Linked DNA regions of Homo sapiens. The protein of the gene in region 2 interacts with the protein of the main gene of each other region in a pairwise test. Each region holds a gene or a part of one and is shown on either strand. Other genes may lie near its edges.

Region 1 (3,827 bases), on a different chromosome or scaffold from region 2:
CCTGGGTTCCTGAGAAGCATGGCTTGTGTGGTTTGGAGTCAGTGGGGGAGACAAGAGATCTGTTGGAAACGAGACCCAGGACAGGCTGACATCTTAGCTCCTTTAATGCTTTATTGGTGAGAGCTATTACTATGCTCATTTTAAAAGGGAGGGACCTGGGACCCAGAGAAGGAAAGGACTGTCCCAGGTGTGAAGCTGGTTGCAGCAAAGCCAAGGCAGAACCCCTGTTTCCTTCATCCTGTAGGCCAAAGTGTCTCTACTTATAATTGACACAATAAAGCCAGGGCACCACACACACACATACGCACACACACTTGCGACTGTCTTACACTTGTACCACTATTTTTATGTAAACCCGGGTGTTCTTGTTTAAATAGGCACTCTCTCATTGGTCTAAAAAATAGTTAACATTGATATGAACTTACATGTGCCAAGAACCACGTTAAGCTCTTTGCCTGGTTCTCGTATTTAATCTTCATAAGAACCTTGTCAGGACTACTATTACTCCCTTTAACAGATGAGAAGACCGAGGCGCAGAGAGGCTGCACAACTGAACCAAGACTCCACACCTGCTGTAGTCAGATGAGGCCACAGTTGAATTCCTGCAGTCTGGCTCCTGAAGGCACCTGAGAGAATGTCCTGGACTCAAACACAGGTACAGAGCATCTCTAACAGCTGTAGCCAGATGCATATCAGTTGATGAAAAGAGCATGGCTTAAGTAACTTCAGGATTAGAAACTTGTAATACCAGTTTCTCCTAGGGCTGCAAGGAATGATTTCCCGAATGCCTACTGAGGACCACAGGGGCACCGCAGCTTCCACGGTGCCTTGTTTGCTTATAGATCATGTTCGTTACAAATGGTAACCAGAAAGAGAAAGGGTTTGGGCAGCTCTTGGCTGGAGGTGAGACCGTGGCCAAGCCCCCTATCTTAGTCCCTTTGGGCTACTATAAAAAGTACTATAGACTGGGCAGCTTATAAACAACAGACAATGATTTCTTAGAGTTCTGAGGCTGGAAGTCCAAGATTAAGGCCCCGGCAGATTTGGTATCTGGTGAGGCTTGTTTCTCATAGACATAGCCTTCTCTCTATGTCCTCACATGGTGAAAGGGGTGATGGGTCTCTCTAGGGTCTCTTTTATAAGGTTACTCATTCCATTCATGAGGGCTCTGACTTCATGACCTAATCATCTCTCAAAGTTCCTATTTCCTAATACATTGCAGGCAAGGATTTCAACATAGGAATGTTGGGAGAAACACACACGTCCACTCCATTGCAGCTCCACTTGCAATCTGTACCATGGCCATCATCCTAGGCACCACACAAAACCATGAAGAGAGTACAAGATAATTACAAAGTAGATGCTCGAAGCATAGCATTTCACTCTCCACACCTGTGCAAATTCAGGAGGAATCAAATCCATCATCTCAAGGGAGTTTCTGTCCAGAAAGGAACTCCTGTAAGGGACTTTGCACTGGGTCCTAAGTCCCACTCCGCCCAGCTGGCCTCCTTGGCGAGATTGGTCTGCGTTGGAAAATGGAACTGCCACAATCAAGTGGAGCTAAGCTTTCAGCACTACAATTCCACAGGACAGTCCTCCTCCTCCTCCTCCTCATGAAGAATAGAAAGAATGGTGGATTTGCATTCAGAGAAAACAGCTTGAGCCCATAGCTCTGCGGCAAGAGGCATGCAGCTGCTGGCTGACGTCTTGGAGTCTCTGAGTCTGTTTCTTTACTTATAAAATGGGGCCGCAAGCTCATGCAGGCAGAGAGCACTTTGGACTGTAAACCTGTGTCTAGCAATTATTATTATTGATGCTACAAAAGACAGGCAGAAGCCTCTTCTCCTGAGGTAGCATAAGAGAAAAGGGAGAAATTTTCTACAACAAACAAAGATCAAAATTCAGGGGAAAGCCTTGCTCCTCTGCTGACATGAAGGAGGAAGGAGCTTTGTGCAGCTGTTTCTTATTCATTCCCTGTTTAATAAACAATGCTCTGTCAAAGTAGATTCTTGGCCAACAATTATCCGTGGAAAGGAGCCATAGAGAAGTTTGTCTTGGTTTTCAGTTTTCCTCCCATGGAAAGATGCTACTTCCACTCATATCTCTGTAACCATGCTGTGACCTTAGTTAATGCTGGCTGGAAAAATTCATAACTTGAGCAACTTCCAAAGACAAAAAAGAATGCCAAGGACATGAAACTGATTGATATTATTCCATTTTAGTCCTGACCGTAGACAATTCAAATAGTTGGAATGAGGATGTGTGTATGACTGGGGATCCTTTTTTCACTTGACATTTTTCCTTTATGCCTAATTACAAGGTGCAGAATTTCCTTAACATAACGCTCCTATTTGCACTTATTAAGGGCTGCTGAGTGGGGATTTCACCGTGTTCCTATGACACCATCCATCCCCACTTTGCCTGTTAGCTGTTTGCTGTTATGGGCAGCACCGTCATGAGTAGATGCCACCCCACCATCACCATATAGGTCGCACCTATTGGGTCTGTCTCTCAAAGATATTAATTCCCCAGTGGAATTGAGACATGTGAGTTGTACAGTTCTTTTTGCGTGTTGTCAATTTCTTTTTGAAAAACTGGAATGATACAGAAATGTCACCCACCATCAGGCATTGAGCATAGACACTCCATCTCTGTAAGCTTTGCTCCTTCATTCACATTTTAACTTTAAACCTTAAAACATTCAAATTTTATTATTTTCATTCATGGTTGCTAATTTTGAAAGTTTATATGATAACTACTAGGTAATTTTAACTTTTCTCCTTTGTTTTCATTTTATTGAAGAGTTATGTCAGAAGAAACTTTTCAGAAATCACCCCCCCCCTTACAAATTTTTTCCCTTATTTTTTCTCAATTCTTTCCCCCTTTCTCTTGCAGTCACATTAATAGTTCACAAGAGATCATAACCATCTGCCTTTGCTATTGGCTTGAGACAATTCGAATTATGTTCTAGTTGGTTGCTTCTTTTCATCATAGTCATAATATCCAGTGCCCATGACATGTCCTGGTTTACCGTCTATTACAAACACAGGACACCTGCACTGTGAATCTATTTAGTATGCTTTGGTACACTCTTTGGGGAGTCCTTATGAGCCAATTTGGTGGTAAATATTGACTTCTACATTCACAGTGAATGCTTCCCTATTCCTCATATTGAACAGCTGCTGGCCTGGGGCCTGGTGTTGCTAAGAAGCCTGCACTTGAGGTGCCCCCCTCCAAGAAAAAATCCTGAGAATCTGTTGAACTTTGGTTGCCACATCCTATTGTCCAAGAAACCAAACAAATCAGCAGTGCTCAAGCTCCTGATAAGCTCGTGGTATACATTATCTCACTGAACACGCTCACAACACTGCCAGGCCAGTAGAGTTATTGCTGTTTAACTTGACCACAGCCACACAGCCAGTAAGTGAAGGAGTGGGTGCTGGTGTTCTGAAGCCAGCATTTTCCTAACACACCTTTGGCCTGGGAATCCACTTACACCTCCACTGTCAGCTGCCTGTGTCCTCACCATGGCCAGAGATGAGACCACAGGACTCTAAACAGGGCTCTCACTGGGGATGGGGAAGGTGGTGCCTGCAACCCAGAGTGTGGTCCAGGGCTCCTGCCTGGTTCACTGCACATGAGAGAACAGGGGAATGTGGCTTCGGGTGGGAGTGCTGAGCCCGCAGACACACGTCTGCCTCCACCCACCTGGGCTGATCCCAACAGAAACAGGCAGAGGCTCAACAAACTCTGCTGCCCTCCATGCCCCAAGAGAAGTGCCTCTCCTCTACCTCCTCCAAAGCAGAAGAAATGTTGAATAGTTGCCA
Region 2 (3,827 bases):
TAGAGCCAGTCCTTCCATATGTGCTTTAGATTCTTCCTGTTTTGTTCAAGAATATTGCTCAAGCTATTCTTCCTCCTGTTTCCTGCATCAGCATTTCCCCTCTCTACTAGATCATCTCTGTCAGTAAATGAACATGTTGTTGTTTCTCCTAGAAGTACTGTTTCTATATCTAGATAGTACTCTAGCTAGAGTTAAAAAAAAAAAAAACAAAACCAACAAACTCAAAACTCTCTTCAGATGTTACTTCACCTCTTGCTGTTACTGCATTTCTCTACTGTATGTTACAGCAGAATTCCTTTTAAAAAATGTCCACGTTCACTGACTCTAGTTTTTTATTTCTCCTTGTCTCTTGAACCCAGTCCAGTCAGGTGCCACCACTCCACTGAAACTCCTGTTTTTTTTTTTTTTTTTTTTTTGAGACAGAGTCTTGCTCTGTTGCCCAGGCTAGAGTGCAATGGCACGATCTTGGCTCACTGTAACCTCCACCTCCTGGATTCAAGCGATTCCCGCCTCAGCTTCCTGAGTAGCTGAGATTACAGGCGCCTGCCACCATGCCCGGCTACTTTTTGTATTTTTTTTTTTTTGAGACGGAGTCTCTCTCTGTTACCCAGGCTGGAGTGCAGTGGCTCACTCGGCTCACTGCAAGCTCCACCTCCCAGGTTCACGCCATTCTTCTGCCTCAGCCTTCCGAGTAGCTGGGACTACAGGCACCTGCTACCACACCTGGCTAAATTTTTTTTTGTATTTTTAGTAGAGACGGGGTTTCACCGTGTTAGCCGGGATGGTCTTGATCTCCTGACCTCATGATCCGCCTGCCCACCTTGGCCTCCCAAAGTGCTGAGATTACAGGCGTCAGCCACTAATTTTTGTATTTTTAGTAGAGATGGGGTTTCACCATGCTGGCCAGGCTGGTCTCAAACTCCCGACCTCATGTGATCCACCCGCCTCGGCCTTCCAAAGTGCTGGGATTACAGGCGTGAGCCATCATGCCTGGCCTGAAACTGCTGTTTTTAAGGGCACTACTGATTTCCACATTGCTAAACCCAGTGACTGTGTCTGATCTTATTAAACTTATAAGGAGTAAATGAATAAATAAATGGGCAAGGTGGAGGTGAGGTGGGAAAGTTTGTTGAGTACACTAAAAATAGTAACTACCATTATTTACTACTGTTGAGGGAAATCTAATAGTGTGGGACTGGTGCAAAGGATATAGAAATAGGCAATAGGTTTTAGGATACTTTGGGGTAACTGATGCTAACAGTTTCTTATGGATTCTTTTGGAATGTTCTATAAATATACGAGTATATTTATCAACCCACCTTCAGTTATTTTTTTAACCACAGAAAAGTCAAAAGATCAGTACACTGATAAACGTGCGTTTTCCTTATCTAGATTTACCAACTGTTAACATCGTGCCACATTCACTTTATATCTTAATATTACCCACACTTTCCTCCTTTTTCACATCTGAAAGTGGGCTGCAGATAATATGAAACTCCTAAACACTTCACCATGTATTTCCTAAGAATGAGGAAATGTTTATTTTTAAAAAGCATCAATTCATTTTAATATGCTTTATACTTCAAAGCTAACATCACAGGGTTCTTTTTCACCTTCTTGCACCATATGCTTGTATTTCTCTTCTGCCGCTATGAGAATCCTGATTCCCAATAACATCCTTTGTTTTTATAGGCTCACTTCAGCAGCTCTGTTGGAAATAAACTGAAAGAGGGGCAAGGGCAGAAGCAGGGAGACGTTTTGGAGGCTGTTATAGCAATCCCCATGAGTTACAATAGTAGCAGTGGAGTAATGAGAAGTAGTTGGATTATGGATATGTACACACACACACACACACACACACACACACATACACACATATATATACATACATTTTAAAATTTTGAAATAGTTTGAAATCTATAGAAAAGTTTTAAGAACAGTGCAAAGAACTCTTGCATGCCTTTTACACAGACTCCTCAGTTGTTAAATTTTACTGCATTTACTCAATTTCTCTCTTTCTCCCTTTCAAGAGAGAGAGATGTGTTGACCCATCACCTTTAAATACTGTAGTGTATACTCTCTATCCTCCTGCCTCCCAAAAGAAGGCCACTTTCCTCTATTACTACCCTATATTTCTTCCAGTCAGGAGATAAACATTGATACAACAGTGTCATCCAATTCAAAGACACCATTCAAAGTTTGCCATCTGTTTCAATAATGATTTGCTTTTCTAGTCTAGGATTTTACTTGCAAACACTCATTGCTTTTACTTATCATGTCTCATCAGTGTCCTTTAATCTGGAACAGTTCTTTAGTCTTTTCCTGTCTCTAATGTCCTTGACAGTCTTAAAGAGTAGAAGTCTTTTATTCGACAAGATGATCCTAAACCACTAAGGGGTTCCTTGGAAAAATGACCAATTCCAGGGCTGGGAAAGTGCAGGGAAAGTGCAAAATAAGCCTGGAAAATCTTGGGCCAGAAATTCTCAGCAAATGAACATGTTAAAAAGAACAAAGGCCCCAATATGAATGAACTCCCCGTGGTCAAATCTGGGAAAATTTGGCATCAGAATAAAATGAGGGTATACATTATAGTGTAAATACTATGCGATGTTCCTATGCCATCATATCATCCTGTGATATAGTCACATGATCACTTGGTCAAGTTGGTATCTTCTAGGTTTCACCACTGTAAAGCCACTGCTTCCCATTTTGTATTTTATTGCTATTTTGGGGGAGATAATCTGACATAACACCAATATCCTTTTCTTATTAAACCTCTAACCACGAGCCCTAGCCTCATTAATAACCCCAATCTATATCAGTTACCACTCTAATGGTTGCCAAATGGTAACTATCTAACTCTATCATTCTGTCTATCATTCTATCATTGTTGATTGACATTGCACTATAAGAACCAACCTACCTACCTACCTTCCTTCCTTCCTTTGTTCCGTGATGAACTCATTGATTCCTTTTTTATTTGGTGGTTGGTAAACCGCTACTCTCATTTTATTCTGATGCTCAGATTTTCCCAGATTTGACCACTGAGAATTCATTCATATTGGGGCCTTTGTTCTTTTTGACATATTCCTGTCATTTGCTGAGAATTTCTGGCACAGCAAGATTTCCAGGCTTATTTTGCACTTTCCCTGCTGCAAGCCCTGGAATTGGTTATTTCTCCAAGGAACCCCTTAGTGGACTTCTGTTTGGTGGAAGATGGTATTTAGTATCCAAGATCTGGTCACCCAGTATTTTCATTGCTACTGGGATGTCATTGCTTCTAGGACCTCTTAGCAGACAGAACTAGGAAATATATATACATGTGTGTATATATATATATATGTGCATGTGTATATATGTATATATGCATAATACAAACATCTGCATATGTGTGTACATATATATATACTTCCACAGCTATCTGTATGTGTTATATTTTAAATGAGTTTATTTACTAATACTTCTAGTTCTAATCCAACATCTTAGGATTCTTTTAGTCTCCCGACTCTTTCCATGCTCTTAAATCCTTTCTCAGACTGTGAGAAATCTGACTCCAATTATTTTAGTAAAAGGCAAAAGATTCATTCGTTCTGAAGAGAAACCAGAGCATTCTAATTATTTTAGATATATTCAACCATTTGCTCAGTCACCTAACATATTTGTTCAGTATGACCACTCTCCTAACCACTCAGCCTGCGTTTTCCATCTGCTACTCCATTCCCCCTCCCACTGGGCTGGGGCATGCTGGCATCTTTGCTGGGCAATAGTCTCTCCCACACCATCCTATTTCCTTGGATATGAGGCATATTGCTGGAGATGACTGTGCA

What was found.
Region 1: the proteins of ATF6 (region 2) and DDC interact in a two-hybrid assay, tested with the Homo sapiens proteins (one large-scale study listed by BioGRID and IntAct).

What each region holds. Positions count from the first base shown.
Region 1 is NC_000007.14:50,555,245-50,559,071, forward strand, and holds part of DDC (aromatic-L-amino-acid decarboxylase), read right to left. Parts: intron 1-3,827.
Region 2 is NC_000001.11:161,772,570-161,776,396, forward strand, and holds part of ATF6 (cyclic AMP-dependent transcription factor ATF-6 alpha), read left to right. Parts: exon of another isoform or gene 1-46; intron 47-3,827.